Linked DNA regions of Homo sapiens: region 1 is linked to region 2. The links come from fine-mapping of genetic effects on gene expression. Tissue or cell type: whole blood. Region 2 holds a variant in brackets; the other region holds the start of a gene. All regions are shown on one strand. Distances are from middle to middle.

Region 1 (11,125 bases), 30 kb after region 2:
CTAACTCCCACGACCTCAGGATATGGCTCTATTTGGAAAGAAGGTCTCTAAAGAGGTAATTAAGTTAAAAAGAGGTCCATAGGGTGGGCCCCAAACCCACAAGACTACTGTCCTTATAAGAAGAGATTTGGCTAAGCACGGTGGCTCATGCCCGTAATCCCAGCACTTTGGGAGGCCGAGGCAGGAGGATCACGAGGTCAGGAGATTGAGACCATCCTGGCTAACACAGTGAAACCCCGTCTCTACTAAAAATATAAAAAATTAGCGGGGCGTGGTGGTGAGCGCATGTAGTCCCAGCTACTCTGGAGGCTGAGGCAGAAGAATGGCATGAACCCGAGAGGCGGAGCTTGCAGTGAGCCACTGCACTCCAGCCTGGGCAACAGAGTGAGACTCAGTCTCAAAAAAAAAAAAAAGAAGAGATTGGGGCACAGACACACACAGAGGGAAGACCATGCGAGGACATGGTGAGAAGGTGGCCATCTACAAGCCAAGGAGAGGGGCCTCAGAAGAAATCAACCCTGCCACCTTGATCTCAGACTTCTAGCCTCCAGAACTGTGACAAAATCGATTTCTGTCGTTTAAGCCTCCTAGTCTATGGTACTTTGTTATGGCAGCGCTGGCAAACTGAAAGCTGATAAAATCAGTCTTCATGACAATTTTTCAGAAACACTTCCTGACAGTATTTACAAGCACCAGAGAAAAACCAGCATGTAGGCTGGGTATGGTGGCTCACGCCTATAATCCCAGGACTCTAGGAGGCCAGGGTGGATGGATCACTTGAGGTCGGGAGTTCGAGACTAGCCTGGCCAACATGAAGAAAACCTGTATCTACTAAAAATACAAAATTAGCCGGGCGAGGTGGTGCATGCCTGTAATCCCAGCTACTCAGGAGGCTGAGGCAGGACAATCGCTTGAACCCAGGAGGCGGAGGCCGTGGTGAGCCAAGATTGCGCCATTGCACTCCAGCCTGGGCAACAGGAGCGAGACTCTGTCTCAAAAAAAAAAAAAAGAAAGAAAAAAAGAAAAACCAGCATGTCTACATGACAACAACAAAAAATCCAATGTGTATTTACCAAGGAGGAGATGGGGCCTTGCAAGGTCTAAGGCCCAGGACAGCGCCTCTGAACAAGCATTTGATGAGAATGACAAAGAGGAGTTGCTGCACAGCAGTCAGTCGGTAAGCAGTTAGCCACAGGCTGAATCAATGAGCATGGCATCTTATCATTATAGGTTACATATGTGCATGCGTGCAGGCGTGTATACACACACACACACACACACACACAGAGCCCTGAACCTAGCTTTTTTTTTTTTGCTCTCTTCCTCCATTCTTTCCATCCACAAGCGTCTGATAAGCACCAGGGTGAGCCAGACATTGGCACCATGCCCTGAGAACCCAAAGATAAACCTTTAAATGACTGCCTGAGTCACCAGGACCCAGAAGAGTCAGGCCAACAGCATTTGTTTGACTCTGGCACTGCCATGCCTCCTATGCCACATCTCAGGAGAATGCCAAACCCTGATCCACCCCAAACCTGCACCTTTTACAGAATCCCCCAGCTCAGTAAAAGGCAACTTCCCTCTCCCACTGCACAGACCAAAAACCCTGAAGCCATCCTTGCCTGCTCTCTTTCCCTCATCTAGCGGAGGTGACAGACATAGAGGAGACTCTGATACGGAGTGGAAAGTGCAACGTCAGCTGTTGTCAGAATCTGTCAGCGCAGAGCGGAAGGGCACCTGAGCCAGTCAGGGCTGGGAGAGAACTGGGGAAGAAATCAGGGGAGCATGCTGGATGGCATAAAGCCTGAGTGGAATACTTAAAGGGTGAGGAGGAGACAGCAAGAGAAAGGAAGAACATTCCAGAAGAGGGGCAAATAATTTGGTGCTGCCAGAGCCAAATATATCTAATAAGTGTAACGATGACTGATGGTAACAATGATAATGACTACTAAAATTTATTGAGCAACTGCCAAATATCGGGGATTGCCAAAATGTTTTATGAGTTAATCATTCAGTCCTCAACCAGCCTGTGAGGGTAGTAATATCATTAACTCCACTTTGCAGATGAGGGAACTGAGACCTGGAGGTAAAGTCACTTGCCCGAAGCCATCAGCTAGCAAGGAGCAGAGCCCAGGTTGAAACAAGGTGGGCTGGATCTTGGGACTGTGCCCTAGACCACCAGGCTCAATGCCTCCTGAGTAGAGGACTAAGAGTCAGGCACCCAGGACTCCGTACCAGCTCTGCAGCAGGACTGATGAGCTATTTCTAAAAGAACTGACCCTGCGGTTCAGGAAGACAAGCAGAGTCACAGGGGAAGCAGAAAAGTGCAGCCAACCACACCCACTCTCCCTAAAGTGAGTCAGAAATGGAAGGTTCAAGAAACTCACCTGTGTAAACCACAAGGAAAAGAGAAAACTGAAGAAAGAAGAAAACTCAAGGTCATCTGAGCCAGTAAATATCACACTACAGATTTCCGAGACAAGTCAGACCTGACCCCACATTTTGGGAACTAGCTTAAGAACAGGGCTGCCATCTTTATTTTACCAAATATGAACATGAAACAGATCTACCAGTTACCCCCATGAGTGGCTCTATCCAGCCACCATTTGCTGTGTGCCTTCCTCCTCGTGGGCTGTTGTTCCCTGCTCTCCCCTGGACTGCCTCATCCCTGAAGGCTGATTTCCCCAGAGTTCCACCCTCAGCCTCTTTTCAGGCCTCAGACGCTACCTCAGATCTGATCCACTCCTGGGGCTGCAACTACAACATACACCGCCCAATATCTCCCAAACCAGCCCAGCGCATTGGGGCCCTGGCCTTCCTCCCAAGCTTCTGACCTGAACAGCTGCCTCCTGGGCATGCTTCCAAACTAAAACCCTCTCTTGCTCTCTCAGTGAACAACACCCAGGCCACCGCAGGAACAGAGACTGAAGAGTCGTCACCTCTCACATATCCTCTCATCACACCGTCACCAGCTATCCCAAATTTCTCACACACATAGCCCTTGGAAAGCTCTAATCTAGATACTTCCAGACAGCTGCTTCCTAGAGGCATTTCCCAGTCACCCTGCATCTAGACAGGGTCACGAGACAGCTTCTGGTCAATGGGATGTGGGTGAAAGGAAATCCACCACTTCTAGACCTGGCCCACAAAAACCTCCCATGCATCCCTCTTTTCGATCAGCCCCCTCGAACTTGATAACCTAGGCTGGCCTCAAGAGCCATGTGCTGAGGGGCACAGAGCGGAGGTCAGTCAGCCTGCATCCCTGAATGACTGTATGGATCAAGGCCCCCACCCCATGCTCACTACTGGGCCTGACATGAGCAAGAAATATCTACTCTATTAAGACAAACATACACACACACACACAAAACAGGGAGCAAGCAAGAAAGGAGGGAGCAGGGGAGGAAGGAATTCTCCTTGATGACTAGCTTCCCAGTGGTTCCCCCACAACATCCTCCCTTAAATTGGCACCCACACCACTACCTTAGACTTCCTAAAACGCAAACCTGATGGTTGCTCTCTCCTGCCATTTTACCCGCCCCATCACCTCCAGGGTGAGGCCCAAATTCTTTAGCATAAACCTCAGCAATCCCTTCCACACATCCCACTGGCCACATGCTATGCACAGAACATGGACGCTAAGTGCTGGGGAGACAGCTGGAGCCTCTGCCCTCAGGGAGTTTCTATTCTACTGGCAGCTGGGTGCCATGAGGAAAATAAACAGTTCCCTGTGACCAAGAGTAAGGGGAGGAAAAATCCTCAAATGGGATGTGATCTTTAGGTTGAGGCCTGAAGGATTAACAAATAGGGCCAACCAAGAGCAAGAAGGGCATTCCAGGCAGAGCAAAGACTCCCAGAAATGCCCAGGCTCCCAGAAATGCCCGGGGGGGGGGGGGTGTTCCAGTCACAGAAGGGTCCTGGGTGGGCAGGGACCAGTGCCCCAGGACCTTGTGGGCGATGGCAGGGAGTCTGCATTTTCCAGTTTGTAAGCAGATTAATAGGGTTGAACTGGGTTTAAAGATCTCTACCAGCTGCTGGGCAGAGAAAACCTTCATTGTCTGGCCTCAAAGCTGGCAAGGGGCGACCCGCGGCGTCGTGGAGTTCCCCTAAGCCGCCGCCTCCCTCCCTCCCCACCCCACACGGCCACACCCGGGTGTTCCACCCGGCACTACCATGCTCTATGTAAATCACTCTCTCCCCCCAGGCGTCTAGAGGACCCCACTCGACCCTGAGTCCCTCGCACTGTGCCAGGTACTCCGCAGGTGCTCATTAAACGCTCGCTTTAGTGAATGACGGTGCGAGGTCAGGGCAGAGCCACCGAATTGTCTGCTCAAACTTCAAGTAGGACCCCCAAGCGGGCTGGAAGTGCGTGAGGGCGCGCAGGACCTCCGCCCGCCGTCGCTCCCGGCGCGGCGCCTTACCCGGCTCTCAGGAACTTGCAGGCGCCGTAGACCATGAACCTGCAGAGGTGGAGCTGCGCGCAGAGCCCCACGCAGCCCGGCTTGGAGCCCTGGTGCGCGCGACACAGGCGCAGCGGCGAGGCGGCCAGCACCACGCGCTCCGGGGCCGCGGCTGCGCCGCCCGCCCGCACCGCCACCACGAAGCGCCCACGCTGCCGCAGCAGCCGCTCCAGCGCGTCGGCGCTCAAGCCCATCCGCAAGCGGCGCCGCAGCTCGGGCAACTCCAGGGCGCCCCCGGCCGCGCACAGCACCTGGGTGACCTCACCGACGACGCCGGCCTGGGCCATGGCCGCTGGGCCTGCTCCCGTCGGACCGCGGGTGGCGCGACGCGGACGGCGGCGGACGCTGGCTGGCGGGCGGCTCTCGCAGGGTGGAGACGCCGGCGGGAAACGAAACCGAAAGCGGCCCCGGGCCGGCGAAAAACAGAACCTGTGCGCCCTCGCCACGCCCCCGGTCCGCAGCTGAGCGGCTGCGCCTTCCGCCTCAGGGCCCCCAGCTGTGAGGCCGCCGCCCGACGGAAGCTCGGGAGCTCTTGAGCTCGGGCGTTCGGCCCGGAGCGCGGGCTGTGGCTGTGGCGGCTCGCGGGGGTCAGTACCTAGTCCCTGAAAATGGCTTCCCTGGATGTTTGAGGGACCAGGAGCCCCTAATGCCGCGATGCTCAGCGCGCCTTCAGTCAGAGGGAGCCTCGAGGGCGGCGGCAGCGCTGGCGGAGCCGGCTGGACGCCGCCGGTTAAAGCCGCTCAGCGTCGCCCAGGCCAAGCCCGGGCTTCGTAGACGGCTCACAGAAACAGGGACAACTGACGGGAGCTCTCACCCCTCGAACAAGTGACAAAAGCGATCACTCCGCATAGAAGACGCACTTAATTAAAGGTTCCTTTCGCCTCGGTGCATCAATGAGTTCCTTCATTTAAACATAAAAGGGTATGTCCTTTAAAAGAGCAAATCCGTGAGCCGAGATTGCGCGACTGCACTCCAGCCTGGGCGACAGAGCGAGACTCCGTCTCAAAAAATAAAATAAAATAAAATAAAATCCGTTACTCCCAGCCCCTGCTAAGTAACGATTGAACAAATATTTTAGAAGACCCTTCAGAGCAAAGGACCCTCTCACACGCTGAGAGCAATGCGAGTTGTTAGAGCCCTTTGAGGAGGTAATCCAGGAATAGCTATTAAAATTGAAAACGCGTGTGACCTTTGACCCAGCAATCTTTCCTCTCGGAATCTTCCAGAAGTAAAAGGAACAGTAAATAAGTTATGTGTGAAAGTGTTACTGGGGGAACCCTACCTGGGAGGTAGGGTTACGTGGGAACAGTGTGGTTGATCTTTAAAGACTATTACGAAGGCTGTTTAACAAGCATGCGTTAGAGCTCCGTGTGCGGATGTAGAGGGGCAGACAGCCATGATGTGGTGGTAAACGAGAAAAGATGGCTGTACAGAAATGTCTAAATAATCAAGTTGAATGATCAAGAATTAATTTTTTTAAATGTCTGAATAACAAAAAGAGAAGCCTGTGTGTGTGTGTGTGGCAGGATATTTTTGAATAAGCACGGAGAAAGATGAAGAAACACACAAGGGTAGTTGAGAGGAGGCAGTAGGAGGTATTAGGAAAATGGAAAAGGGAAGATGAGAGGCAGAAGGATTGTGGGGGGAGAGTACTTACGGTATACGGTATAACATTCACTAAAAATGAATATAAAAATCTTAACTATAGGCCAGGCACAGTGGCTCACGCCTGTAATCCCAGCACTTTGGGAGGTCAAGGCGGGCGGATCACTTGAGGTCAGTAGTTTGAGACCAGCCTGGCCAACGTGGTGAAACCCCGTCTCTGCTAAAAACGTAAAAATTAGCCGGGCGTGGTAACGGGCGCCAGTAATCCCAGCTACTCGGGAGACAGGCAGGAGAATCGCTTGAATCCGGGAGGCAGAGATTGCAGTGAGCGGAGATCATGACACTGCACTCCAGCCTGGGCGACAGAGTGAGACTCCATCTTTAAAAAAAAAAAAAAAATTACCTGTACTATTACTACAAAAATGTAAATAATAAGTGTATGGATAAAGACTAGATAGTAACATGGACAAATGAAAATGAATTTATTTAATTAGGAAATTGAATGAAGGGTTTTCTCTTGGATTTTAATTGTGATTTTAATGTTTTCATTGTATAAAATGTTAATTTTGTTTTTGTTATTGTTTTAGAGACAAGGTCTTGGTCTGTCACCCAGGCTGTAGTATAATGGTACAGTCATAGCTCACTACAACCTGGAACTTCTGGGCTCAAGCGAACCTTCCACCTTAGCCTCCCAAGTAGCTGGGCCTAGAGGCACGTGCCACCATGCCCAGATAATTTTTATATTTTTTTGTAGAGACACTGTCTCATTTGTTGCCCAGGCTGATCTTGAACTCCTGGCCTCAAGCAGTCCTCCCACCTCAGATTCCTAAAGTGCTGGGATTACAGTGAGCCACCACGCCTAGCCTAAAATGTTAATTTTTAATTTAAAATGTTAGGCAGAGTGCAGTGGCTCACGCATGTAATCCCAGCATTTTGGGAGGCCGAGGTGGGTGGATCACTTGAGGTCAGGAGTTCAAGACCAGCCTGGCCAACTTGGTGAAACCCCATCTCTCCTAAAAATACAAAAATTAGCCAGGTGTGATGGTGTGTGCCTGTAATCCCAGCTACCTGGGAGGCTGAGGCAGGAAAATCGTTTGAACCAGGGAGGCGGAGGTTGCAGTGAGTCAAGATCGCACCGTTGCACTCCAGCCTGGGCAACAGAGCAAGACTCCGTCTCAAAAAAAAAGTTAATTTTAGTTGTGGTTTCCATATTTTTTTGCAATAAAATAACATTTTTTAAAAAAGAAAGGAAGAGTGATGTCAGTGAAAATGGTGGATTAAGTATCCCAGCAAGTTTGCCCTTCCATAAAGGAAGCAAGGAAAGAACTGACAAAAATTGTCAGAATCAACTTTCTTAGAGCCCTAGAAATTAGTCACAGGTTTGCAGCAACCCATCTGGCATTTAGTCAGGAAAAACAGCAAACTCTCAGTAAGAACAGCAATATTTATAGTATTTTAATTTACCCTAGTCCTATCGCACCCCCATCTCTAGTTCCATGGCAGCCTTGAAAACTTACAGCCCACGTTCCTAGTACCTGTACCAGAGGGAGGAGACAGGGCTGGAGCTACTTCAAAGTCTCATTCCCAAAGAAGAGTCATTATTTAACCTATCTAGTGGGTCCCTGGAAAAAAATCCTGAAAAGGGTTGTCTTTATTCAACCTCTTTGGAACTAGCTCAGTCCTAAAGGTTTTTCCACCTGAAGAGGGAGTGATTTGTCAAATATTTTAACATTGTAACTGGCTGAGGCAATAGGTAACGGTAGGGGCAAACAATAGACTAACAAAGAAATGTAAAAGGAAACGTTGAAGGAAGAGATGTCCATAGGGGCTTTGAAAAGCTCCAGTATATTTTCAGGAATTTAGAAGGCCATGTGCATGTGTAGGGCTGTGCACATGCTCTGTTAACACCTGAGAAGATCCTAACCTCTCACTACTAGCTGACACTGAGGCTCTGTGCTAGCAGGAAATAAAAGCTATGCAGAGTTGCAAACTGCCTAATGAAAATTGAAGACATACCCCAAAGTGCATACAGAGCCCCTTGGCAAAGACTAGGAGACATATTGGTTCCAGGTGTTTAAGGAAATCTCCATCTAATCATTAGTTGACCAAGTAGAGACTTCAATAGTCACACACAATGAAGATACACACTTTAAAAAATTAGTTCAAAAAAGTTACTAAACAGCAACTATTAGGTTGGTGCAAACCGCAATTATTTTTGCACCAACCTAATACTAAAATAAGCACAATCAAACCCTGAGGAGAGAGGAGTATCTGACTTTGAGAGTTGGCACATTGTTTGAAATGTCCAATTTTCAACTAAAAATTATGTGACTTGCAAAGAAACAAGAAAGTAAGACCCATACAAAGGAAATAAGAGCAATCAATAAAAACTGTTCCTAAGAAAACCCAGATGCTGAACTTTGTAGACAAAGAGTGTAAATCAGCTATTTTTGATATGTTCACAGAGCTAAAGGAAACCATCTCTAAAAATGTAAAAGAAAGGATGAGAATGATGCCTTGCCAAACAGAATATTAATAAAGACACAGAAATTATAATAAGGAACCAATAAAGGTTCTGGAGCCAAAAAGTACAATAACTGAAATGTTAAATTCACTAGAAGGGTTCAGCAGCAGATTTGAGCATGCGAAAGAAAAAAAAAATCAGCAAACTTGAAGATAGATCAATTGATGATTATCTGGTCTGTGGAACAGAAACGAAAAAGAAAAATGAAAAGAGCCTCAGAGACCTGTGGGACACCATCAGATATACCAATAACACAAAATGGAAGTCTTAGAAGGAGAAGAGAGAGAGAGAAAGGAAAGCGAGAATATATGAAGAAATTTTGGCTAAAATTTCTCAGATTTGATGAAAAACATTAATCTACACATCCAAGAAGCTTAATGAATTCCAAGTAGGAAAAACTCAAATAGATCTACACCTAGACACATCATAATCAAACTTTTGAAAACAAAGAGAATCTTGAAAGCAGCAAGAAAGTAGCAACTCATCATGCACAAGGAATCAACAATAAAATAAAAACAGTTAACTTCTCATCAAAAACCATGCATGCAGAGGGTAGTGTGATGATGTATTCAAAATGTGAAAAGAATCAACCAAGAATTTTATATCCAGCAAAACTATCTTTCAGAAATGAAGGAGAAATTAAGATATTCCCAGATAAACTAAAGCTGAGCCCGTTAGTTGCTAGCACTGGGAGAAACACTAAAGAGAGTCGTTTGGGCTGAAAGTGAAAGACACTAAACAGCAACTGGAATTCTCATGAAGAAAGAAAAGCACCAGTAAAGGTAACTACACAGGTAAATGAAAAAGACAGTATAAACGTATTTTTTGTTTGTAACCCCCATCATCTGATTTAAGACAACTACATAATGCAGTAATTACAAATATAAGTTGATGGACAATGTTTTGAAGATGTAATTTGTGACAATAACAGCAGAAGGAAATGGGGAAGGAAAGTGAAGCCATAGAGAAGCAGTTTTTATATTCTGTGGAAATTAAATTGGTATTAATCCAAACTGGATTTTTATAAATTAAGATGTTGCTGGTAATTCCTAGTGCAACCAATAACCAATAAAATACATGAGGCCGGACACAGTGGCTCACGCCTGTAATCCCTGCATTTTGGGAGGCCGAGGCGGGTGGATCACCTGAGGTCAGGAGTTCGAGACCAGCCTGGCCAACATGGTGAAACCCCATCTCTACTAAAAATACAAAAAATTAGCCAGGTGTGGTGGCAGGCACCTGTAATCCCAGCTACTCAGGAGGCTGAGGCAGGAGAATCGCTTGAACCCAGGAGGTGGAGGTTATAGTGAGCCAAGATCGTATCACTGCACTCCAGCCTGGGCAACAGAGTGAGACTCCATCTCAATAAAAAAAAAGAAAGAAAGAAAAAAAAAGAAATGATAAGATAATTTAAGTGGCACACTGGCAAATATCTATTTAATACAAAAGAAGGCAGTACTAGAGGAGTTGAAAAACAAAAAAAAAGACAAAAGACGTAGAAAAAATAGAAAAATGGCAGACAAATCCTACCTTATTAGTAATTACATTAAATGTAAATGGATTAAGCTTTCCAATTAAAAAATAGAGATGGGCATAATGGACCAAAACAAACAACAAAAATAGAAAACATGACCTAACTGTATGCTGCATTCAAAAGATACATTTTGGATTCAAAGACAAACAGATTGAAAGTAAAAGGATGGAAAAAATATACCATACAAATGGTAACCAAAAGAGGGCCGGAGTGGTTATACTAATGTCAGACAAAATAGACATAAGATAAAAATTCTTACTAGAGATAAAGAAGGACATTTTATAATGATCAAAGAATCTACCAAAAATATATAATAAATATAAATTAAATGCACTTAACAACAGAGTCCCAAAACACATGAAGCAAAAACTGACAGAACTGAAGGAAGAAATAGACAATTCAACAATAATAGTTGGAGGCTTTAATATCTACTTTCAATAATGAATAAAAAACCAGACAAAATATCAGCAAGGATATAGAAGGGCAATACTATAATCCAAGTAGACCTGAAAGACATCTATAGAACTCTTCACCCAACAAGAGCAGAACACATATTCTTCTCAAGTGTACATGGAAAATACTCCAGGATATACCAGATGCTAGGCTATAAAACAAGTCTCAAGAATCGTAAAATAAATTATATGAAGTATGTTCTCTTGCCATAATGGAATAAAAGTAGAAGTCAATAACAGAAATTTGAAAAATTCACAAATATGTAAAATTAGAAAATATACTTCTAAATAATAAGTCAAATAAGAAATCACAAGAGAAATTAGAAAATATTTTTGAGATAGATGAAAATGAAAACAAATTTATGAGATGTAGTGAAAGCATTGTTTCAAGGAAAATATGTCTCTGTGAATGCCTACATGAAAAAGGATCTCAAATCAATATCCTAACATTCCATCTTAGAAACTAGAAAAATAAGAGCAAACTAAGCCCAAAAGGAAGGAAATAATAAAGATTAGAGTAGAAACACAATAGAGAATTTAAAAAGAATAC
Region 2 (11,294 bases):
GAGTTAGACAGTGCTCGGCAGCCGGCCAGCTGGCAGACATCAGCCCAGGTGCAGACGGGCAGCCTCAGATGTTAGTCTGCGTACTCTCCTGCACTCAGCACAGCTCCCACTGGTCAGAGCCCCTCAACAAGCTGCCAAATTGACTGTCCATTCTCCTGTCTGCTAGTCGTGAATGCCTTCCCTCCTGACAGTAACCCCATTCCAAATGTCCATCGGACTCAGGTCCTCCCCAGGCTGCTTCTCCTTTTCTCGCTTAATAAAATTGGTATTTATTGGTTAAGCCCAGCCCATAAACTCATTTCTGCCCTTTCTAGCAAATTTCACGCTCATCCTCCTCCCTCCACAAGACAACCCCTCCCCTCAGAGCCACAGCCAACTCCTGGGTGGTGAAAAAACAAAACCCTCTGCAAAAAACAAAAACAAAAATAAAGCCCACATCTGTCACTGCCCTCCTGCCCCAATTAGCCCCAGCCTTACAGCTTCTTCAGTGTTGAGGAATGGCACAGTCTGTTCACACACACCCACTTCTACAGAACACCTTCCTGTCCAGCCCCAGGCGCATGCGTCCCCTACCTGAAAGCCTGGGTCTGGCAGGGCAGAGGAGTCCCAATAGTCTGGGATGCTCTTCGGGCCTGGAAACTTGGTATTGCTACAAAAATGTAAACAAAAACACGTAGACATTTTATTCTTACACAAAGCAAATATACCATAGGTGGTCTCTGCTAGCCAATATCACCAGTCTTGAGTCTCAGCACATCATATTTCAAGAGCAGGTAGAAGGCAAGGAAGAATGTTAGCACGATATTCACAACATGAGAGCACTTTTATCTTTGCCTATGTAGCCAAACTCCAAACAGTCCTGAGAGATCTATTTCTCGCCTGTGTCCCAACTACCACACAAAAGGGATAAAAGGGATGGAGTACATGGTTAAAGGAGCACACACACAGCCATAAACCTTTATCCACAATTCTGAAATTCTAAGAGCTCTAAAGACATTTTTTTAAGGCCTCGATGAGGTATAATTGACATTTTAAAACTTTTTATACAGCTCAGGAAAAGCAGGAGAAAATATGAAATAAAACATTTTTTGAAAAACATAAAAGTGACATCAAAAGTCATTTGGCAGTAGAAATTTGACTGAAGTTAGTAAGAGGCCACTGTGATCTGTATCTATCCTTCTTAAACTGACTATGCATATTGTTTACTGCAGAAATATTAATGTGCTAAAATACAGAGTGTCACGTGATACAAGCATCACATTATCTTTCTAAAAATTAAATAAAAGCAGTTCAAAAGACATATGGATCAAGGGTTCAGGAACAAGGACTGTGAAACTATAATTACAAATCATTCCTATTAAGTTTCAGAATACACTGTTCTTTCTAAATAGATCTACCTTCTGTTTCTGCTGGCATGAAACATATACCTTCATCCTAAGCCTCAAAGAACTCCCACAAATAACTTTCCTGGGAAAATGGCACAGTTCAAAAATAACTAAGCAAGGTCCTACCAGCAAGAATCAGCCAAAAACAGACCCACAAAGACTTAAGATGCTGAAATTATCAGAGAGATTACAAAACAATTATTCTTCCTATGTTTAAAGGAAAAAAAAAGACAAACTTTAAAAACATATGCAAGGAACAGGAAACTATAAAAAGACCTGGAAGATCTAAAAAAGAACCAAATAGAACTTACAGAATTAAGTACAATCTTTAATAATAAAAGTGTAGTGGACAGGCTTAATAGCAGATTAGACCAGCTGGAGGAAGAATCAGTGAGCTGAAACATATGTGAAATGAAATTGTCCAGAATGTGGCCCACAGCAACAAGGAAATGGAAAATGCAGGAAAGAAGTTGAGACATGGAGAACAGTGAGAACTTGAATATGATCAGAACCTAAGTGAAGCTCTAGGAGAGGAGAGACAAGACAGTGGAGGCGATTTTCAAAGAGAACTGATGAGATGCACCTATCCGCAGCTTAAGAAGCCCAAAGAATCTCAACCATGATAAATAAAAGCACATACTTAGATACACTTTAGTGAGGATGCCTACCTCCAAGACAAACAGAAGCTCTTAAAAGTAGCCAAAGGAAAAAAGAGTGATTACTGTCAAAGAAGCACCTGTTAGACCAACAGGCAATTTCTCAAAAGCAACAGTGGAAGCCAGAATACAGTGGAGTGATCATCACAATGATCCAAGAGAAAATCCCTACAACCCAAAATTCTATACCCAGTGAAAATTTCCTTCAAGATTGATGGCAAAATAAATACATGTTGGCCAGGCGCAGTGGCCCACGCCTGTAATCCCAGCACTTTGGGAGGCCGAGGTGGGCAGATCACTTGAGATCAGGAGTTCAAGACCAGCCTGACCAACATAATGAAACCCCATCTCCACCAAAAATACAAAAATTAGCCGGGCATGGTGGCGCACGCCAGTAGTCCAAGCTACTCAGGAGGCTGAGACAGGAGAATCGCTTGAACTCAAGAGGCGGAGGTTGCAGTGAGCCAAGATCATGCCACTGCACTCTGGCCTGGGCGACAGTGCGACTCCATCTCAAAATACATACATACATACATGCATACATACATACGTACATACATATTCAGACAAACCAAAAACAGTTTTCCAACAAATCTTCATCGAAGGCAGCCTTGTCCAACCTGCAGCCCGCAGGCTGCATGTAACCCAGGACAGCTTTGAATGTGACCCAACACAAATCTGTAAACTTTCTTAAAACATTATGAGATTTTCTTGTGGTTTTTATTCTTTTAGTTCAGCTATCGTTAGTGTTAGTGTATTTTATGTGTGGACCAATTCTTTTTCCTCTAATGTGGCCTGGGAAAGCCAAAAGATTGGACACCCCTGATCTAAGGTAATCTGAAAGGACAAAGTGGTAAAAATGTGAGTAAATTTAATGAAACTTTCAGAGTATAAAATAATGGTGCCTCTTGAGGTTTAAAAAAAGTTGAGAGGAAGGCAAATGGAAGAAAAGATAGGAGGGCAAAGATATTGATTTACTTGTACTTAAGTGAAGAACATGTAGTTTCTACCATAGCCTTTAAAATATACATATACACAAAAGAAGGTAAGAAAAGAAAAAATAAGACCCAATCACATGAATGAAACATTTTCATAGAGGATGGGCAACATGGTGAGACCCTGTCTCCACAACAAATAAAAAAATTAGCTGGGCATGGTGGCGCATGCCTGTGGTCCCAACTACTTGGGATGCTGAGGTGGGAGGATTGCTTGAGCCCGGGAGGTGGAAGGTGCAATAAGCCGTGATCAGGTCACTGCATTCCATCCTGGGTGACAGAGTGAGACCCTGTCTCATAAATAAATAAATAAATAAATACATAAATAAATTTTACATGACACTCCTGTATTATGACTTCTGAATATGGACATTACATTTTATGACCTCATTAATTGTGTAAACAGAAAAGTTGTTTCTGAAAGTGATCTACCCTCAGATTCCCAATTGGCCATGCAGGCCCAGGCAGACTTGCTTACTGGAGTTAATGACAACCAGCTGCTGGCACATGGGTCAGAGAGAAGAACTGAACACTTCATCTGTGTGAACAGTGTGTGACACTCCGCTTACAGGAGACCCCAAATCACCCATATCTTAGTCTGAATCACTTTTAGTTTGGACATTTGGCATCTTCTTGTGGCCCCCTAAAAACTAAATTAGAATAAGAGAGATCTACTCTCAGAAAGCAGAGAGACTTTTCCAAACCTTGTCTAGGGTAGGCTTTGTATAGGAAAAGAATAAAAAATGACTTCCAGAAATAGGAGGGTCATAATCAACCAAAACTCTAAATCCAGAATCAGTAAGACACTGATACATTTAACTAAAATAATAAGAGATATATATTTATGGTAAAATACTTCACAGGCAAAGTCAAAAGGCAAACAACAAACTAAGAGAAAATATTTGCCATTTATATAACAAAACGAGGGCCAACCTCCCTAATAGATAAAAGGCTCTTGATATTTAAGAAAAATACCAGAAAGTTGATAGAAAAATGGATAAAAAGACCAACAGTCCACAGAAAAAGAAGCAAAAATGGCACTTACATGTTAGAAATAATATTCAACCTCACTCCTAAGAGAGAGCAAACTGAAGTCCACTGACCCATCTTTACCCCTGAGAAATGCAAAAGCCCAAGAGCCTGACAACTCACTCTGTGGCATCTCATGCGTCCTAGTGGGTGTGCATAATGATTCAAGCCCATGGAAAGGAATTTGGTTTACTTCCTACGACTCTGACCTAACAGTCGACCTCCAAAATTTGTTTTTTTTAATTAAAAAAAAAAAGAGACAGGGTCTCGCTATGTTGCCCAGGTTGGTCTCAAACTCCTGGGCTCAAGCGATCCTTCCATCTTGGCCTCCCAAAGTGCTGGGATTATAGGTGTGCACCACCGCACCTGGCCATACCTCCAAAATTTGAAACAGCACATACATCAAATGGTTCATCACGACATTATACTTTTTAATAGCAAAAGACTGAAAACAACACAAACATCCATGAAAAGGGGACATATTAAGTAAACTATGGTACATACATATTACAGAGAACCAGGAAAGAAGAAACGGATTGAGGAAGTTAATGAATTGAAACAAAGTGATTATCATGATCTATTTTTAAGTGAAAACAAAAAAGGGTATAGAACAGTATAGATAGCATGTTCCCTTTTGTGCAAGAAGAAAATACTTTTATATGTATGTATGCAAATGCTTATTTTTGCAAAGAGAAACATAAAAAAGAGAAACCGGAAACTAATGTTACCCACAGTGGGAACAGGGTAGAGATAACAGGGAGGAAGTTACAGTCTACAGAGGATACCATTTTATATAGGTTTGACTTTTAATCACGTGAAGGTTTTACACATAGTCAAAAACAATAATAATAATAATTATTATTTTTGAGACGGGTCTCACTCTGTCACCCAGGCTGGAGTGCAGTGGTGTGATCTTGGCTCACTACGGCCTTGACCTCCCTGGGCTCAGGTGTCTCTCCCACCTCAGTCTCCTGAGTAGCTGGGACTACAGGCGCACAGGCTGGTCTCGAACTCCTGGGCTCAAGCAATCTACCCGCCTCGGCCTCTTGAACTGTTGGGATTACAGGTGTGAGTCACTGCACCCAGCGCAAAAATAAATTTTAATTTAAAAAGGAAAAAGTAAGGCACATTCCCAGGAAATTACTTTGCTAGGTCTGACTCACAAGGCAGTTTCGTGGACTGATAATACCTTTCTCCTCTATCTTGTACCAAACTCATTTAAAAACGACCTTTGCATGCTTCACAAAACAAAAGAACCAAAAGAGACATTGTTGGTTCTCCATAAAATAGACACAAGCCAGACCTCTCAGGCGAACAGAAGGTGCAGCCAGCTACCAGTAACACTGCCTAAAGTCCCAGCACTGGCTCTGGCAAGCCCAAACTGTATGGGCACTGTGGTCCCTCTCCACCATGCAGGCCACCTTCCCCCAATATGTGGCTGTGTGGTTTGGAGAACACTGACCCCTTCCTCTCAGTTCCAATCCCATCCCACCTCCCCAAGCCTAAAATAACACCAGAGGTTGAGATAGGGTCTGATCAGTACAAAGCA[C/T]AAGAATTTCCCCTCATCTGCTATAGGAGGTTTCTCTCCTCCCTTCTAGGGGCTCACAGGCCACAGGCTAACCTGGTGGCTCCTGGCAGCCATCTTGGGACTGAAAGAAACTCACCCTGACGAAGCTCGCCCATTAGTGACTGCAATATCTGTTTTTAGAGTTTTGGTATTCCGTGATATTCAAATACTAAAATACATGAGTTTTTATTGGTGTAATTCCATCATTATTTCATTATTTCAACATTTAAAAAATTCAAGTCTATGACTCAATGATTCCACAGAAAAGACAAACGGATGGGTTGGCTTCAAGTCTAGACTCGCCTTCAGAGTCTGTCTTCTCCAGAGAATCATCGCAGATCACAACAGGCAGCCTTCTAATTATGCATCACGAAGCTTCTACCCACAGGGTAATTCCCACTCTGGTCCAACTAGTAGAAGACAAACGATAACAGAGTGTGGGAGCACTTCGTTGTACAAGCCAACGGTGCCCGGGTGCTGTCTGAGGCAGGTTTTCTGTCACCACTGCAGAGCACACCCCAGCTGATTACATCCTAAGTACCAAGCCCCCCACTGCAACCTACCAGGTTTGCATGGTCGTCACATCCTGGGGAGACACGTATTTGGGTCTGCGGCAAACCTTTTTAGTTGTGCCATAGACCAGGTTTTTCTGAACGAAGGCTGAAAAAAAACATAACCAGTGAAAAAATATACATATACATATACATACACACAGGATGGCAATGTTTTATAAACACAAATTAGATAGATTTGAAAGCTTATCCAAATGTGTAAAACCCAGAATCAGTCTGTTAAAAATAGGGCCATTTTACACATTTCAAATATTCATAAAGAAAATAGGTATCCTTAGGAGACTGGGTTTAATGAATAGAGGAATGATTAGTAATTGACATATCAATTACACATGAGTGCTTTTAAATTGTTCCTTCCAATCTTGTTTAAACCATTATTTTGCTTGGCAATTTTTCCCAGCTTGGATATAAAAAAGCCTCAGCCCAGCCTGAGATCAAACTACCATGTCTTGAGTTAGTGGGATTCAGAGTTAATGTAAGTTTTATGACTTTGTTTTAGTTAAACTATGGCAGTATTCATCAACCTTTCTAAACCAATAATATCTTTAATAAACAAATTTCTTGCTTCCCCACCCTCAAGAATCCCATACTCATCCTGAGGATTTGGGGTTGGGGGAACTGGCCCCTCAAGTTGAAAAATGACAAATACCTAGCAGTGTTTGTTCTGTCCTTGCCTGCCAGGAAAACCCTCTCAAGTCTTACATTTTTTTTAAGAGATGGGGTCTTTTGCTTTGTTGCTCAAGTGGACCTTGAACTCACCAGCTCAAGTAATCCTCCCACCTCAGCCTCCCAAGTAGCTGGGACTACAGGTTTGTGACACCATGCCCAACTAATTTTGTTTTCATTTACAAAACATTTTAATATTAAAAATTATAGGTGTCCAGAATTAGCCTTATTGCAGTTGAGCATAAACTGGATGGTTATCCAAGTGTGTGTCTCTTAGGTTGCAGCTGAGATGGTCACTATTCCTGGAGGTCCATCCACATTCTCATTCAGAGCCCATGATCCAGATGCAGCAACCATGACCCCTTCTGTTACCCACTACTCAGCCGCCCATCAAGACCATTCTCACTGGCATATTTAAATGGGTGTTACTGGCCTACTGGCCATCTGTGATGAATCTTAAATGGCTTTCACTGGTGAAATTAAAAGTGAGCTAAGATACGTGGACTGGCTAAATGTGTGTCAGACACATTCCCTACCCTTCTATGGACACAGTAAAGTGAGGTCTTTTCCCTAATTTACCCTTCCAGAGGATACCCTAGGCTACAGCCTGTCTTTGGGGAATTCTGCCCCGTCAGACACCACCTAACAGGATGCTAGAATTCTGCCTCTGGAATCCTGGCATTTGCCTTGAGTGAATCATTTATGACAAGAGTCCCTAAAAGGGCAGAACTGAATCATCCCTAAACCTTCAGAACAACTCATTTGGGCTCTTTTGTGTGTTTTAAATGTACTTGCTTCCTAATAAACAGCTAATAAATATGTGTGGCAGTTTGCTTTGAGACTTGCTTTATACTTAGAAGTGAAGTTGTGGGGGAAGAAGCCAATTCATCTCAAGCTTCTTTTATGGATACTGGTATCTACCAAAAGAAGGAGGAGGAAGAGGAGGAGGAGGGGGAAGAGGAAGAGGAGGAGGAAGAGGAAGAGGAGGAGGACGAGGAGGAGGACAAGGAGGAGGACAAGGAGGAGGAGGAGGAGGAGGAGGACGAGGAGGAGGAGGAGGACGAGGAGGAGGAGGAGGAGGAGGAGGAGGAGAAGGAGGAGAAGGAGGAGAAGGAGGAGAAGGAGGAGAAGGAGGAGAAGGAGGAGAAGGAGGAGAAGGAGGAGAAGGAGGAGAAGGAGAAGAATTGTGCCCACTCAAATGGGCTTCGGTCAGTCTGCAGGAATCATAAACTGCACGTGTGTGCTCTTCCCCATCCCTATTATGAGGTTCTGTTATGTCCCCAGGGTGTGGCCTAGGTTGGGAATGATCAAGGTAGTATCTGACATTTCTATCTGTTTTGATATTTTCCAGATATTTAAAAGAAATATTCCAGATTGCTGTCAGCAGCAGTCAGATGTATGCTTGCCACACAGTCCTGACCTTCAGGGCAGTCCTGATTTGATTAACGTCTATGCTCTCACTGGTCCCCTCTCATGCACTGGTGTGTGTCAGGCCGTGGAAAGCAAACCAGACCACACGTGGCTGGCGCTCTCCAGCAGAGGCAGTTCGCACTCTAGAGGAGAAAAACTTCACCGTAAAGGGCATGTCAAGGGGGTAGTGATCTACCCTAAGCAAAACCACAAGTGCCACGAAACCACAAGCAAAACCAAGGCCAGAAACAGACAGCCAAAGTGGTTTTAGGATAATTCACCAGACACTTCACTATACTCCACATAGAATAAACGTCTGCAAAAATAAAGAAAACCATAAACTGTGTTTAAAGGAAGGCCCACTTACTCCCTTATAAAATGCTGAACATTCAGAAGGACTCAGAGTTTAAAATGTGAAATACAGGCAAAACGGAACTGAATAAAGCTGGACCGATACACTCATGAGGAAATGGCTTAAGAGAAACTACACAAAATTAAAACTTAAAAAAAAAAAAATTCTCACACATCAGCCACTTGGAGGAACTGGCCAAAGGGTGGCCTATTTCTCTCTGTAAGGCAACCAGGATGAAACATTTCAGCCCCAGCCTCAGGACACCATGAGTGCACGAAAATCTGCTTCTCAGGGACTTTCAATTACTCTGTGTCCTACCATCCGTTAAACCCATCAACTCCAAAGTCGCCTACAGAAAAGATGGCAGCAGGCCAGGCGCGGTGGCTCATGCCTGAAATCCCAGCAAACTGGGAGGCCAAGGTGGGTAGAACGCTTGAGGACAGGAATTCAAGACCAGTCTGGCCAACATGATGAAACCCCGTCTCTATGAAAAATACAAAAAATTAGCCAGGTGTGACGGCTCATGACTGTAATTCCAGCTACTTGGGAGGCTGAAGCACGAGAATCACTTGAACCCGGGAGGCGGAGGTTGCAGTGAGCCAAGATCACGCCATTGCACTCCAGCCTGGGTGACAGAGCGAGACTCCGTCTCAAAAAAAAGATGACAGCAGCACTGCTGCAGCAGGGAGTGAAAGGCAGACACTGCACGACGGAGCTGCTCGGACACCTGTCAGGGACTCAGGTTAGTCCTCGGATACAGCAGGACAACCATGCTACATGCATGCTGACCCTGCTTGTCCTCCACACTTGGGGCTCCTGCCCCTCCTGGGGTCCATTCTCCTCACATCCTTGATGCAGTTCTTCCTCCACTGCACAGGGCCAGTGTCATCTGTCTCCAGGTCTACCTTGGACCTGGTACCTTGCTTTTCTTTCCTGTACCCACCCAGGCCCTCAGTATGTGCACACGGCTCCTCCAGGGTTAAGGTGTAGGGACAGAGCCAACACAGGCAGGCTCTGCTGGGCGAGGGCAGGGCACAGGATACCTTTGAAATCTAACTCGTAGTTGTGCTTTCCGGCCTGGAACTTCAAGGTGGCTGCCTGGCCGTCAGACCCCGGTGTACAGTAGGCCAGGTAGGCCTTCTCCACGTCGCTACTGCTGACAGTGGTCACAGGGTGCACCGTGCCCTGCGATGGAAAGCCAGACACTTTATGAAGGCAAGAAACTGCGTGATGAGGAAAAACGCTGGTGGCACCCACGCCACATTTCAGAGGTGCTCCTGGTGGACAGTCCTGTGGTGGGGAAGATGGAGGCCAGGGAGCATGGTATGGCAGGAGAGAGAGGCACAGAATGGAGGCAACATGACTGTCTCCTGAAGCTGCCCTAGCAAACACAATGCAGTAAATATGGGTCCTGCTGAGCAGGAAGACAGGGATGGGAGCAACGGAGAGGAGGGCACTCAAGTCACCTAGGACAGAGGACACGGCAGCCATTCAAATGCCGGCAGAACAGCAACAGCGACTTCTGGAGTGCTGCTTGACTGGGCAGCCCAAGCCAGGCTGGTCTTACCCGTCTATTCACGTTGCAACCATCCTTTAATCAGAGCTCGGTCCTCTTCCTTGCGGTTTTCTTTTTCTGGTCCCTAGGAGCATTCATCTATTTTTTAAATTATCCATTTCAATCCCTATCCTTCCACAATTACCTACAGGAAATCTCGTAGCTTCAGCTGGAGTGAGTTTGAATTCTGGCTCCCAAACCTGCTGGCTCTATAACTTTGGCAAGTTATCTTAACCTCCCTGAGCCTCCGTTATCTCAAGCTTATAATATGAATAATAGTACTTAGGCCATATTCATCCCTTTATACAACAGGACTATATTGTCCTCACAGGGCTGGAGAAATCATTTAAATAAGGCATGTGGAGCACTTAGTACAGTGCCCAGAACAAAACATACTCAATAAATGTTACTATTATCATCACCGTTCTTATTAAATTTGAGATTACACTGACAACTAAAATTAAAGTTATTCAACCTATAACCAACTAACTCCCTCTGTCCCTGTCAATTTTCCTGCTCCCCCTACTGCTACCATCCTAGTTCTCCTGGGTCACAAGCTTTAGGTGTTACTAACAGAACAAAAGTGAGACAAGACAAGAGTCACCCATGCCTCTGCGCAACTGAGTCCAGCAATGGAGAAGGGGAAAAAAAAGTACCCAGATATTTCAAAGCCTCAAGCACAAGGTCCCACACAGGTCTCACGGGTGCTCTAGACGCTGAGATGGGTAACTAAGAATGACCAAGGAAGGGTGAGACCCAGCAAAGGTTTCTTGGAAGAAAAAGATGCCTGAGCCAAGGCCCAAGCCCGAGGGATGACATGAGTTGGCCCCATGAGGACCATAAGGGGCGGGTGTAAGAGGTATAATGGTTTGTAAAGCAGCCTCCTAGTTTACGGTCTCATAGCGGCGCCTAAGTTTCTCTCTCTGAAGTCTGTCTTCCTTCAAAACCAAGCCATTAGACTAGAGTCCGGGAGGAAGAGGATGTGGCATAAAAATCCCTTTCTGACAACAAGAGGAAAGGAAAAGAAAACAATCCCTCCCCTTTGGGCCTGAGGAAATGAAGCTCTGAGTCAGGGAAACAGAGAGGAGAAGCAGCAGTCAGATGCAG

The links. PIP is the estimated chance that this variant, and not a neighbour inherited with it, causes the effect.
Region 1: PARP12 starts here. The variant in region 2 is fine-mapped to the expression of PARP12 in whole blood (TOPMed, PIP above 0.99).

The regions. Positions count from the first base shown.
Region 1 is chr7:140,058,101-140,069,225 of GRCh38, forward strand. It overlaps PARP12 (poly(ADP-ribose) polymerase family member 12), which reads right to left and starts at 4,851. Exons shown (of 12, transcript NM_022750.4): 1 at 4,422-4,851. The coding sequence starts at 4,747. RefSeq lists a silencer at 4,459-4,778 and an enhancer at 4,789-4,998.
Region 2 is chr7:140,028,040-140,039,333 of GRCh38, forward strand. It overlaps PARP12 (poly(ADP-ribose) polymerase family member 12), which reads right to left. Exons shown (of 12, transcript NM_022750.4): 7 at 9,676-9,817; 8 at 6,196-6,292; 9 at 574-649. Among named protein-coding and RNA genes, the nearest start is that of PARP12, 29 kb to the right of the region's middle. RefSeq lists a silencer at 8,473-8,522. The variant C/T (reference allele first, on the strand shown) is at 5,615.